Linked DNA regions of Homo sapiens. The protein of the gene in region 2 interacts with the protein of the main gene of each other region in a pairwise test. Each region holds a gene or a part of one and is shown on either strand. Other genes may lie near its edges.

The links. The genes of interacting proteins can lie anywhere in the genome.
Region 1: the proteins of TCP11L2 (region 2) and TUBA8 interact in binary tests that used the Homo sapiens proteins (3 or more experiments, as listed by UniProt).

Annotation. Positions count from the first base shown.
Region 1 is NC_000022.11:18,106,361-18,113,812, reverse strand, and holds the start of TUBA8 (tubulin alpha-8 chain), read right to left. Parts: upstream 3,005-7,452; 5' UTR 2,948-3,004; coding exon 2,945-2,947; intron 1-2,944.
Region 2 is NC_000012.12:106,305,715-106,312,736, reverse strand, and holds part of TCP11L2 (T-complex protein 11-like protein 2), read right to left. Parts: intron 5,456-7,022; exon of another isoform or gene 5,367-5,455; intron 3,807-5,366; exon of another isoform or gene 3,660-3,806; intron 1,697-3,659; 5' UTR 1,662-1,696; coding exon 1,505-1,661; intron 445-1,504; exon of another isoform or gene 303-444; intron 1-302. UniProt on the Homo sapiens protein: Promotes the migration of muscle-derived satellite cells (MDSCs) during differentiation throught interaction with FMNL2 and therefore may participate in microfilament assembly.

The DNA of each region.
Region 1 (7,452 bases), on a different chromosome or scaffold from region 2:
ACTCGGAGGCATGCGCCCAGTGCTTCTCGGGAAACCTGCCTTTTGTGATGGGAGGGGAGGAGGAGGCAGCAGTGACCTGCAGCCCCTGGGAGCCCACACAGTGCTCTGAGGTCAGAATACACCTATCAACTCCACAGAGCTTGGCCATGCCTGTCTACATGGGGAGACTGCAGAAGGCTGCAGGCAGAAGGGTGTCCATTTGGCCCCCAGAACCCTCTAACTGCCCATTTTTGCAGGGAGACGGGCTCCTTCGTGCTCTCCAGTCCTAACGGAATGGAGTTAAAGAAGCCGTGTTGCAGATGTTCCCACCTCCCCATAAACCACAGAAAACTTCTCTGTGCCCTGGTATCATTGGCATGGGCTTGGCTTAGGGCACCTGGCCAGGATTCTCCATACCACTTCCCAAAAAAGGTGTCATAGTCTGAGTTCCCAGAGAGCTGCGTGCTAGAACACTGGGAATGGATGGGAATGGTCTGCTGTGGGAGTAGCCTGCCGGTCCCAGCACGGGCAGGTGGCTCAGGACAGAGGCTCTGGTGCCCAGCAGATGTAAACTCCAGCCCCTACGCAGCTTCTTACCAGCTGTGTCACTTTAGGCTCCAGGACAGAAATGCTAAAGGGTATTGGTGGTACCGTGCAGTGGGTAGCTGGGGAGAAGGGGTTGGGGGTAAGTTCACAGAGGAAAAATGCTCATCTGCCTAGCAGCTAGAGAAATGCATTTAAAAATACACTTAAGGATTAGTTACACTTTTCTTGCCCAGAGCCTACAGAAATTCCAAATCGAATTCTCCTTAACACCAAGGTCACCTCCCCCAAACCCCCACCAGGGAGGGAAGTGAAGGGGACAGGACAGCAGCCTGAAACTTAATCCTTAGAAGAAATACAGTCATTTTTGTAAGGGTGAGATTCTAGGGGTCTAGGTTTATAGATGTGTCATTTTAGCCTTTTACAAATGAGCCAAATGATATTTTAAAAGTTTCTGTGAGTGTAAAATGTTCAACAAAAAATATTAGCCATCAAGACAGTGCAACGCACACAAGTTAAATGTTCTAGATAGAACCTACTAGACAAAATTGAGTGTTTCAAAATAAATGAAAGGTGGTCGCATTTCAAAATATTTAACCATAGGTTTTCAGCTAAACACCCAAATTCTTAAGCACGTTCAAAATAAAGTTTTGCTGTTTGAATTGTTGATTTACCAGGCATTGTCAGAAACACGTCTGTGGATCACACATTCAAGCTTGTGCACAGGGCTGGGTTAAGATCCTCGACACGCCCCTGTAAACATCCTCTGGGCTCCACTCTGTACCACAATGGCATTCAGATCCAAATTAAAGCATGCAAGGGAAGCACTTGGAAAATCCTAAAACACTAGCTACCTGCTAGATATTATAAATATTAAATATCAATTCTAGAGTATGCAGCCTAGCATTTGCTTCAAAATTATGGAGGGAGGGAATAAATGAAGTGAGACAGGTCAGAAGTTGGTAATTATTGAACTTAGATGATGTATATAATCGCTAATTATACCATTTGCTCTCCGTTTGCATATGTTTGAAATTCCCTACCATAAAAAGTTTAAAAATAATGAAATCTAAGTGGAGTCTTGGAAATTTGAATTATAACCCTCTTCATTTCGCAGGTAAAACAAACACATCCAGAGAGGTTAAGTGACCTTCCTGAAGTCACACAGCTAGCTGCAGAGCCAGGAGTCAAAATTCTGAACTGGCAGCTCCGGGCCCTTTGTGTGGCCTCATACCAGGGTCCTCAGGCAGAAATAGGTTCCTGTGGCCACCCTCCCTAATATTCCCAAGTTCTTTCAGTTCCCAGGGGTGTCTGGGAGCCCGCTAGGAGGAGGGAGGGTGCTGACAAAACTGAAGCTGGAAGGCTAGAGCTCCGGGGGAGCCAGGAGGCCCTGGGCACGGGCCAAACGTAACAGGGCGGGGCGGAGGGGGTTCTCGCCTGCTTTCTGGATCACTGACACCTGGAGCAAGCCTGCCCAGGGAACCCGACCTTGGCCATGACATAGGCTTATTCTGCCCTCACTCTGCCCCCAATCTTTCCAGCCCATCTCCCTACTGCTGAAAGATCAGGGGTCCAGGAGGGATTCCTGGGATTCTGGGCTTTGGGAAAGTGGACTGGGGGCAAATGTTAACCACCAGGGGCACTGGGGGCGGAGAGGGGGACCCTAGAAAGAGGAACTGAGTGTTTGCAGCCGCCCCTCAGTAAGATCCAGGGGCGGGGGCAGGGAAGGGAGCAGCCGCGATCCCCCTAAGCCAGGGTAGGAAACAGGTCGAAGGTCCCCTGGCCTTTGGAAGCAGAGACTTCTTACTCCCAAAGTCCTTCGACTCTGACCGCTGGAAAGACTTGGGAGCTGCTGAGTGCGCCCGGAGGACCCCGCCGCGCTGGGGCTGTGCGTGCAGCAAACCCAAGCCGCTGGCCAGGCTTGCGAGAAAGACCTCCACGCGTGGGGGGACCGTGGCGCCCTAGGTCCTCTGTCACATTCCGGGCCCTGTCACATTAGGCTGGGTTCGGAGACGTGACTGCATCTGGCCCCCCAGTCGCCCCGGCCCAGACCACCCATCCAGAATCCCCGGACTCGCCCTTCTCTCCACTCTGTCCACAGGCTGCCCATCTGGGGACCCCAGAATCTCGCCCCCTTCTCCGTCGGGCTCCCCAGGGCCTCCCTCCCCCTCGTCTGCACGCAAAGCTCCCTTAGGTCCCTTTAAGGAACAACTGGCCCCTGGTCTCTATTTCCCCCATACGATAAAGGGCACCGGGTGTTCCCGCCCGAGGGTGCGGACTCCTCGACCCTGAACTGCCACCCCCAGAAGGCCTTGAGCCCTGCGGCTCCAGGAAGACGGGTCCGTGCGCCTCCGCGTAGACTCGGCTCTCGGTCCTACGCCTGCCGCGCGCCCGCAGCCCGCCTGGCCCCGGGAAGCCTCACCATCGCTGCCGCTGTCCTCGCCCGCGCACCTCTCAGCTGGGCCTGCCCGCCCCGACTGCTCCAGATACAGCCGCCTCCGCCGTTGTGACACACCGGGAGGGGGGGACGCCGGGGACAGGCGCGCCGGGCCCGCAGCTGCCCCCCGGCATCACAGTGCCGGGGAGGGGCGGGCAGGTCACAAAGGCCCCTCCCCGCCCACCCGCGGCTCAAATCTCCGGGTCCTCGGTCCCGCCTCAGCAGCCGGGGGCGCTCGCAGCGGGGACTGCGCCCGCGGGGGAGGCTGCCCTATTACCAAAGCGCACGTGTCCACGTTCCAACACCGCCGGCGAGAGCAGCCTTCGTGACCCCAGCTGCCGGAGAAAGAAATGTAAAATGCAGCCAGGCGAATCGCGCGGGTCTCCCCAAACTTCCGTTCTCCTCCGACCCGCTGGAAAGGCTCCTGACTGGGGTGCAGCTGACCGGAGCGGGCTGCAGCGGGCCCGGGTGCCAAGGTGCCGTCTCAGCTGGGCGCCCTAGGGCCGTGTGTGCTTGGCAAGCTGCAGGGCCTCTGCTCCCAAAGCCTGTGCCTCCTGCCGCCAAGGCCCGCCTGGTTGCTGGAGACGGAAATGAGATGGCATACACAGAGCTCCTGGTACAGGCAGGTGCTGAAGACTGTTCCCGTTTTTACCCTCTCCCCGGATACCTCGCACCTCCACCGGGATTTTCAAATCTCCCCCCTTGATCCCTTCCTACTTTTAAGCCCCAAACGTGTCCAAGTCACATCTCCTATGTAATCCAGAACTCATACCAGGGTTCCCCTGCCTCTGCCCAGTAGTAAGACCCGCCAGATGCTGTTGGTTGCCCCCTGCTCGGGAAGGGGTGGGCACTTGGTAAAAGCCCCTCTTCACACTTTAGATGTTGGCCACGTTGTCACCCTGCCCATCTCCCCTCACTTCCCCCCAGGTGGGTGAGGGGCTGGATGGTCTTTGTTCCTTGTTCTCACTGCTGTTTCTTGTTCTTTCCCTCCAGTGGTCAGTTCCATTCATGTTGAAAGGTGTACCCCAGCCTCTCTCTTCCACTTTCCTCAGCACCAAGCCAACGCAGGCAAATTCATAGGTTTTCCTTAAGACAATACCACTTTAGCCAGACGTGGTAACTCCCCAAGTTTCCAAGCACAGTTAGAGATCTTCCTACCCTTCTGCTCCTAAGACATGCCTGCTTGTGGCCAATAGAGAATGAGAGCAGATTTCTGCTTACCTATGCGGCAATCTGTTCTGTTGGCCACCCATTCATAAACGATAGTACATGTGTCGTAATCATCTTTGCATTTGAGAGAGTACCAAACACAGTGCTTTACCCACTGATACAAACGGTACTTAGTAAAGCATGCGTTGAATTTTTGTCTATCTTATAATGTAAGATCCTGACAATTAAGACTCAGGATTAAGCTAATTGTGCCAAGCACATGATAAATGGTCAATAAAGGATTTTGGTTATTAGTATAACTCTATGTGTATTTCTCTTCCAAACTCTCCCATAGCATATTCTATTACTTCTTCCATAGCATTTCTTTTATTTTTTATTTTTTTTGATGGAGTCTTGCTCTGTCGCCCAGGCTGGAGTGCGGTGGTGTGATCTAGGCTCACTGCAACCTCCGCCTCCCGGGTTCAAGTGATTCTCCTGCCTCAGCCTCCCGAGTAGCTGGGACTACAGGCGCGTGCCACCACGCTCGGCTAATTTTTTGTATTTTTAGTAGAGACGGGGTTTCACCGTGTTACCCAGGATGGTCTCAATCTCCTGACCTTGTGATCCACCCATCTTGGCCTCCCAAAGTGCTGGGATTACAGGCGTGAGCCATCGCGCCCAGCCCCATAGTATTTATCACTTTCTTTTTCTTTTTTTTTTTTTTTTGAGACAAAGTCTCGCTCTGTTGCCCAGGCTGGAGTGCAGTGGTGCGATCTGAGCTCACTGCAACCTCGCCTCCTGGGTTCAAGCGATTCTCCTGCCTCAGCCTCCTGAGTAGCTGGGATTACAGGCAGGCGCCACCATGCCCGGCTAATATGTATCTTTAGTAGAGACAGGGTTTCACCATGTTGTTCAGGCTGGTCTCGAACTCCTGACCTCGTGATCCACCTGCCTCGGCCTCCCAAAGTGCTGGAATTACAGGCGTGAGTCACCGTGCCCAGCCGTATTTATCACTTTCTAGTTTGGAGTATAGGGGTGTGTGTGTGTGTGTGTGTGTGTGTGTGTGTGTGTGTCTAAACACTCTACAAAACAGCAACACCTTAAAGGAAGGGGTTGTGTTATTCATCTTAGTGCCCTCCCTACCAAAAATAGCTAGTTGAGTGCATCAGGTGAGCTCAGTAAACATAGCTGAATAAATTCACTTTTCGAGTTCTCTTTGTGAACCACCACATAAATCATGAACGGGTTCTTAAGGTGTTGGGATAAAGATGATGATGATGGTGATGATGATGATACTAGTAATGACGGTGGCCCTGAATTGCCTTTCATTATGACAAGGCTCTTGAACCACCTCATCTTTCCCCTTTATGAAAATTTGGGCTGGAGGGAGCTATGACTACACCATAAATGCTAACTATAGCATCTCTGGGTTCCAGGGAGATAAAATAGGTTGGCTGTTATGGACTGAACTGTGTTTCCCCAAAATTCATGTGTTAAAGCCTAATCCCCAGTGTGACTGTAGTCAGAAATAGGGTCTTTAAGGAGGTGATTATGATTAAATGAGGTCCCAAGGATATGACCCTAATCCAGAAAGACTGGTGTTGAAGAGGAAGAGACACGAGGAGGGTGCAGACACGGAGAAAAGGCCACGTGACGACACACCGAGAAGGCGGCCATCTGCATGCCAAGGAGAGAGGCATCAGGAGAAACCAACTCTGCCAACATCTTGACATTGGACTTCCAGCCTCCAGAATTGTGAGAAAATTTATTTCTGCTGTTTAAGCCACCCAGTCTGTGGTATTTAGTGATGGCAGTTGTAAGCAGACTAAAACAGTGGTCTTGGAGTCTTTAGAGAAAAAACAATTGGCTGGGTGCAGTGGCTCACGCCTATAATCCCAACACTTTGGGAGGCTGAGGCGGGCGGATCAGCTGAGGTTGGGAGTTTGAGACCAGCCTGACTAACATGGTGAAACCCTATCTCGACTAAAAATACAAAATTAGCTGGGCATGCTGGCGCATACCTGTAATTCCAGCTACTTGAGAGGCTGAGGCAGGAGAATCGCTTGAACCCAGGAGGTGGAGGTTGCAGTGAGCCGAGATAGCACCATTGCACTCCAGCCTGGACAACAAGAGTGAAACTGTCTCAAAAAAAAATCTACTTCTTTTTGGTTTTTGTCCTCCTTCTTAAAATTATTTGATTTGTGGCATCCTGGATCCCCCATCTCACCCTGCTGTATGCTTTCCTCCCTGGGTATAAGTTTGGAAAGGGGAAAGGACATGTTTTTAAGTCCCTGTGATGTTTAATTTTATGTGTCAACTTGACTTGGCCACAAAGTACCCAACATTCATTGGTCGAACATTATTCTGGGTGTGTTTGTGAGGGTGTTTCTGGGAGATAAACACATGAATCAGTAGACCATGAAAAGCAGATGGCCCTCCTTAATGTGCAGGGGCCTCATCCAACCAACTGAAGAACAGAATAGAACAAAAAGGCTGAGAAACAGGGAACTTCTGCCTGCCTGACTGTTGAGCTAGGTAGGACATTGGTCTTCTGCCCTTGCACTAGAACTTTCACCAGCAGCTCTCCTGGTTCTCAGGCCTTGACTCAGACTGAAACCACGTCTTCACCTCTCCTGGGTCTCAGGCTTCAGACTCAGACTGGAACTACATCTTCAGCTCCCCTGGGTCTCAAGCTTCAGACAGACTGAAACCACATCTTCAGCTCTCCTGGGTCTCAGGCTTCAGACTCAGACTGGAACCACACCATCAGCTCTCCTGGGTCTCAGCCTTCAGACAGACTGAAACCACATCTTCAGCTCTCCTGGGTCTCAGGCTTCAGACTCAGACTGGAACTACGTCTTCAGCTCTCCCGGGTCTCAGGCTTCAGACAGACTGAAACCACATCTTCAGCTCTCCTGGGTCTCAGGCTTCAGACTCAGACTGGAACCATGTCTTCAGCTCTGCTGGGTCTCAGGCTTCAGACTCAGACTGGAACCACATCTTCAGCTCTCCTGGGTCTCAGACTTCAGACTCAGACTGGAACCACACCATCAGCTCTCCTGGGTCTCAGGCTTCAGACAGACTGAAACCACATCTTCAGCTCTCCTGGGTCTCAGGCTTCAGACTCAGACTGGAACTACGTCTTCAGCTCTGCTGGGTCTCAGGCTTCAGACAGACTGAAACCACATCTTCAGCTCTCCTGGGTCTCAGGCTTCAGACTCAGACTGGAACCACGTCTTCAGCTCTCGTGGGTCTCAGGCTTCAGACTCAGACTGGAACCACGTCTTCAGCTCTCGTGGGTCTCAGGCTTCAGACTCAGACTGGAACCACGTCTTCAGCTCTCG
Region 2 (7,022 bases):
CTAATTTTTGTATTTTTAGTAGAGATGGGGTTTCACCATGTTGGCCAGGTGGTCTTGAACTCCTGACCTCAGGTGATTTGCCTGCCTCAGCCTCTCAAAGTGCTGGGATTACAGGTGTGAGCCACTGCGCCTGGCTACCTAATTTTTAGGAGAAGATGAGGAGGAGGATCAGGGAAAGAGGAGGAAGAAGAGAAAGGTGATACACAGAATTGGTAAAACCCTTCTTCAGGATGCCTAGGTACCCTGGTGTCAGATGCAACAACACCACATACAGTATAAAGAGTGAGAAAAGGCACAGAAACCTGGGGTGGCTGCTGTTAATTTCTTTTGCCAGGTCTGACTCAAGATTCTCCTTAAAAATGTCTATATACTTTGGTCCAATAATCCAGTGATATCCAAAAGTCTTTCCAGAAAGGCTTCATGCAGTAAGATGTTCATAAAGCACTATTTATAACAGCAAAAAAAAAAAAAAAAAAAAATGGAAACTAAATGTCCAGTGATTAATCAATGGTTAATTTTACCGTACATTCACTTGGTAAAGTAATAAGTATTCATAAAACCAATGTTTCAAAAACATGTAATCATGAGTAAATGTTTTAGTTATAATACTAAGCAAGAAGAGTCCACACACATATACACACATATGTCTATGTGAAGGATAAAGATACGGCAAAGCACTGCCAGCTGTCGTCTTTGAGTGATATCATAGGCAATGTTTTCTTTTCTCTATTCTTATGTATCTTCTAAGTTTTAAAAAATGAGAATGTAAAAATTTAAAATACAAATGAAGCAATTTGTAAGAAGTGGACAGTTCAGCATATTAAACATTAGTTGCTTTTTCCTGCATTTGCTTTGCCAGTTAAAGCTGTTATATTTACTAAATAAAGTGCCAATTAAAAAAAAAAAGGCAAACACATCTGCTTTACCCATCTCTAGTTTCTACATGCAAAAACGGGAAAAAGATATCTCCTTTTGCTGTGGCCTCTCTTTTAACTCTTTCTCACACCCCTAATGTAGTAATTCTCCTTGTGGGTACCTTCCTGGGGTGATTTGCACAATATTTTTTTGAAATCAACATGAAACCCTTTAGATTATTTCACTTCCTTCCTGACCTTTCAATGAAGGCCAGTTTCCTTCAATGTAAATCAGGAATAATCAGAAAAGACCAATTTGAATTTATCCTTCAGTGGAGATCTAAGAAGTAATCTCAAGGAATGGCTTTCTGCTGTTTGGGAGAAAAGACAGATGGGGTTGAAGTCCTGACTTATCATCAGACCGAAACAGATCGGAAGCAGTGATCAAAATAAAAATCAGCAGGTTGTAAACTTTAGTGGCTATTTCTGAGAATGTGTCCCGGAAAGCTGCAGTGCCTCTGCAGTGCTATTCTGGTGCATCTAGAAAGGAGGGGAAGTCTGTTGCTCTCAGGCGTTTCTGAGTTTTCAAATCCAACACATATCTAGAAGTACCCCTGCCACCCACAACCCCTGCTCCCCCATCGGCTCACAAGCAGGAGAGCTGGATTTGCTGGAGGAGTCACTTGCAAAGCTCTGCCTGGAGCATTCATAGTCACTGAGCGAAGCCATGCTTTCGGAAAACCGGGAAGAATCAGAATCGCTTGGCTGGTCCTCTCCCACACACTGCTTCTCGCCATTGAAGGGCATTTTGCGTCACTTAAGTGTGGGTAAAAAGGTAGCACCTGCACAGACAAACAGACCCTGCGTCAATGTTCTGTGGTACTTCCACAGGCACCACCAATGCTTCTTCCAGTGTAGACAACTGTCCCCACAAGTGTCACTGTGTTGGAAAGGCCCCCAGATGACCTCATCCTTCCCCCAGCACCTTGGCCGGACTAGGCCAGATCACTAGGTCATCGAGATTGCCTTTCTGAAAAGGGATTCCACAGCCATAGGTGTGAGCTTACTCAGGACACACCCACTATAAATGTGAAGCTCTAAGTAATGGCAGGTCCTTTTTAAAAAGATGCAGGACACATGCTCTCTCCTCCTGGGTTGCTGAAACATGAGAAGGCGGGAGTGTGGGACTTGGGTCAGATCTCTCGTTCTGTTCTGCCTTTTGCCATGAGACCTTGGGAAGGTCACTTAACTACCTACCTCATAGTGAAACTGGACTGAAAGACTAACCTCTCATTGGGTTGCCAGAAGATTGAATAGAATTCATCTTAAAGAGCTTGGCACAGTACTCAAATGTTAGCTGCTATTATTGCTCCTATTGCTTTGTTTCAGATAAAATAGCTGTGAAATCAGCCTCTTTACGCTTTCTGTGAACCTCCTGGGGAAAGGGGAAGACCGCATGAAACCTCTGGCTGGCAAGTCTTTAGCTTCTTCCCCCTCCATTTCCACATGAACTGCTGTGATATGAAGATTAAGACCTGATATATGGTTAGGATTTGACAATTTACAAAGTACCCATCACAACCCTATGAGTGCACAAGCATGTAGGATCCTGACTCACAAGTGGGGGAACAGACTCAGAGGGATAAGGGGATTTACTACATGATAAAACCAGTCCCTTGGTGTCTATGTCCAGTGTTTCTGGGACATGAGAATCCTTCCAGGGAAGGGCCGTCAGGTTTGGACACTACCCAGAAAGCAGATCACAGGCACACAGGATGACCAGGCCTTGGTCCCAGGAGCACCAGCCAGGCCCGTGAGGGAGCTGACCTTGATGTGAATATGGTATCACCTGACACTGAAGGGGAAACCCGGGCTCAAGGAGAAAGGCACCTCAAATCCTGGATGGACAATAATGAGAGGAAGAGTTCACTGAATCCTTTTAAACCTAAACCAGCCCATGCAATGAGGGATGCAGTGCTTTTAAAGCGGCCAGAATGGGAAACCACAACTATGTATAGTATGTCTGAAAATGCCTGCAGTTTCTTCAATGATTCCATTAATATTCAACAAGTGCCTACTTGAGCACTGAGCACCGGGGAAAGTAACCAAACAAAGACAATGCCCTATTCTTGTGGTTCTCAAGTCCAGCTACCTAAAACTGTGTACTGAATGCTACTAGATGGGAAAAGGGGGAATAAGGCATTGTTGAGAAAACACAAGAAAGGAGAGGCAGGCTCAGGATTAGCAGAGCGGGAGAAGGGGCACTAGCCTTTGTTGAGAGAAAAAGAGTAATTTTTTTAATTCCTTGGATGGTGATGGGGACAAGGATGAGTCTGAGAGGGATCTAATAAGGGTGAAAGGTCTAAGGTCATTTGCGCCTTGCCTCACCTAAACAACCGTCTTCAATCCTGCCACAGAAATGTATCCTTGCTGAGCCCACCACTTTTGCAAGCAGAAAACCACTAGAGTCCACTTGTGCAGGCTGAAGGGCAAGGAGTGGAGTGGAGACACTCACCTTATCCCAGAATCCCAAAGCCATGAACACTGGCTATAAGATTCTTGAGCCCTTGCATCCTCAGTGGTGAAACAGCCTCCTCTAACTCATGAAGACTAAATTCTACCTGAGCTTAAACTCCAATCTGCTCAGGGGAAGGCGAGAGAAGACAGAAGAAAAGGGGCTACTTCAAACCTTTCACTGCCACCAAACCCCAAATCCTAAATGGAATGTTCACCCTCCCCTCTAGTTTGCTTCCTCTCTTTGCCAACATTTGATGTCCCACTGATGGCATTTCTTGCAAATGCTACCTTCTCCAGGAAGCCTTGCTTCTAGCCAAAGTGAATAGCACTCCTCTTGGTATGTCTGCAGCGCGTCTCCTGTATCTCCATGACAGCGCTTAGTTCCTTGTACATTAGTTCCTTGTTCCTTTCTTCCCATGGCTACTTCTGAATCTCCTTAATAAAGCAGAGTTTGTGTCTTGTCCATGACCAGCGCCAAGTATATGACAAGTATTCATTCAGTGTCAGCTAAATCAGAATCCCTGAATCTCATTTGGTACAGCTTCAACCAGAACATTTGCAACCTGATATCATGACACGTTAACCAGGCTGGTACTGCCAAAGCCCAAGCCTTAGAGCAGAGAATCTACTGCTTAAGCCTATCTTATTAGATTTAAACCTCAAGATTCTCAGGTCCTTGTCATGCTCTTATTTGAATATCTTAAAGTTTGTTTCCACTTTAAGTCATTTTTCCCCCAGTTATTCCCCTGTAATGTAACCGCTGTGCTATGCATGCTCTGCTCTTAATTTTTCTCTACTTCGGTTGCCCTCAAATGAGCTCTGGCTGTTTTTCCAAGTGAAATTGAATAAGAGCTTCCAGCCATGAGAATTTATGAACTAGCTTAATAGTTTTAACTGTCCATTTCATTTTTCTACTTTAGCTGGATAGCACACTTGGTAGGTTTCTTAACTGTGTTTAACAAGGCAGAAAAGTGCAAAGATTAAAATAATTGGGAGTCAGGAGTCCAGGGTTTGTGGCCTGGGTTCATCATTAATGTGCCGTGTGACTTTATGCACATTTTTCTGAGAGGTTGGGCCAGTCATAAGGTTTCTCTCAGCAAGGAATATATGATGCTCCAAACCCAGAGTTCCATGAGGCATCACTAGAAGTTCTGAGAAATTAAATGTGCTTATGGCAGTCATGCTTAACAATGTGAAACTACACTTTCTTCCAGCAATTCACTGGAGGTAGAGTTCCTGGCACAGGGGCTGCAATGGAAAATTTAAAAGCTTCAAAATGTTTAGAAACTCTTGTTTAGTGGGTAGAAGCCTCCACATTACAACTGGGCCTTAGTGTATCCAAACAGAAACCTGTATTTGAAGCCAAAATGCCCATTATTACTCTATTAAAAATTTGTCTGTTTCCTCATATAGGCTTACTAAGAATACCTAATTCATAGGGTTGGTGTGAGATTTCAGGTACCCAATACATGCAGCGTGTTTGGAACAGTCATTGACACAGTAAACAGTATACAAATGTTTTCTATTATTTGCTTTTTTTTGTTAATATCATTGCCTCAGGAATTAAACACTCTGGAGGGAAGAACAGTTTTATGTCAGGATAACACCATATTCTTCAACAGACAAACAAGGCTGGTAGTTAACATAGAACAGAACTCTTGGCACTTGTTTGACAGACAAAAACCAAAAGCGAATGGCCCATCACTGTGTGAATGGTCTTCCGCAAGTTCCTTCATACCTGCTCTTACCTTTCTCGGTCTTGAGTTTCCAAGTAAGTCACCTGGGGACAAACCTACTTGATTCAAAAGGCACTGAGGATATTTAGATTGCTTTAAAAACTATTTTGGATTATCCTTTAGACTGATGATAATGAAACCAGGCTGTATCTTTAAGAAAGGTAATACTCCTTATGCAAACTTAGATCTACCTAACCTTTGCCACTGCAACTCACAAGTAAATCAAACAACTTTTCAGAAACATCACATCTCATCATACCTGGAGGATTTAATCACTGGTCAAAGGTAAAGTCAACAGAAAAGACTGAAGATGACTCCAAGCAAAGCCTCCAACACGATAGCAGGTCACTATTCAAAGAAAAGTACTGTCATATTCACATTTTTGATTGTATTATTCCATCACTTTGTGATAATAAATATAATGTCATTTCTTCTGAGACCATCACTGGAATGCAGCAAGCATTCAAATATTTATTCAAATATTTATTGTTGAATAAATGAATGGTAGTAAGACTACTGACATTTAAGAGGTGTGAATGGGTACAAGGACTTGAAGGGGCTAGTGCTGTATTTCACTACAGATAGAGAGGAGATTGGTTTTTAATTTGCTTGTGATTCCTCAGCTCGTGTGCAGCTTTACTTCCTGATTTCCTTTCTGCAGCAACTCTATCTGCAAATAGTTCTGCACTGGTTCAGAATTGCAAAGATACACTGATGATAATACATGTCACTGAAGCCATAAGAACATTGCCTCTGGAGCTAGGTGGACTGGGTTCTTGATCCCGGCTCCTCTTGATTATTTACTGACTAGAAACAGAGAACTCGCCATTTGTAAAATGGGACAATAATAGTATCCACCTTGTAGAAGTGTTGTGAAGATTAACTGAAATAGTATCTGTCAAGTACTTAAGCTCCTAGTAAGTGCCTGACGGATGTCAACTATTATTTTATTCTTATTAAAAGAAGTTACAAGTTCCGAAAATGTAATGTCATAAAAAACAAAGAAAGGTTGAGAATATGTTCCAAATGAAAAAAAAACACTTGATAACTGAGTGCAATAGGTGATCCTAGAGTGGATCCTATACTGAAGCAAAAATGCTGTAAAGGACAGTATCAGTCAATCAATAGCACTGTTAACAATATTTGAATCTACTGTCTGTTATCCAATGTTAAATATACTGAAGTTGAAATGTACTGTGGTTTTGTATTTAGGAATAAAGGGCCATGACATATACAACTTTTTCTCAAATGATTCAAATGCAAGAGAGAAAAAATAATAAAGCACATAGAGCAAAATGTTAATAGGTGAATCTGAGAAAAAGGTAGACAACATGGTATTCCTTATACTATTCTCACGACTTTATCTGTAAGTTTGAAAGTATTTCCAAATAGAAGGTTAAAAGAGAAGATGACAGGCTGAACTGAAACTTCAAGATTCAAATTCAGAACAGTCCAACCTCTTGCAGTTTTGAAATTCTGATTGTGCCCACTGCTGTGATAGCTTAAATACCACTCTATTACAAGAACTCTTCTAGACAGTCAAACTTGTCCTGATGTCCTTCTTGAACAGTGCCTAAAGAATAAAACAGGAAATAGGCCAGAGCCCTCCAGAAAAGGCAAAATAGATAATCCTTTTTAAGAGTTCATCCCTAGGTGGGTTCCCTTTTCCTAAGTCACTGGGCCATGGTTTACAACCCTCTGTGATCTTAACTCTGCCCACCTTATTCTGCAGTGTTCTCCCACTAACCCTTCATGATCTTCTTTGCGTTCCTCAGACATGCCAAACTTCCTATTTCGGGGCACTCATACCTGCTGTTCTCTGCCCCTGAAATGTTCCTCTCCCTGATCTCCTTGTGGTTGGCTCCCTATTGTCATTCAGATTTGAAATTTAATGTCACCAACTACGAGGTAACCT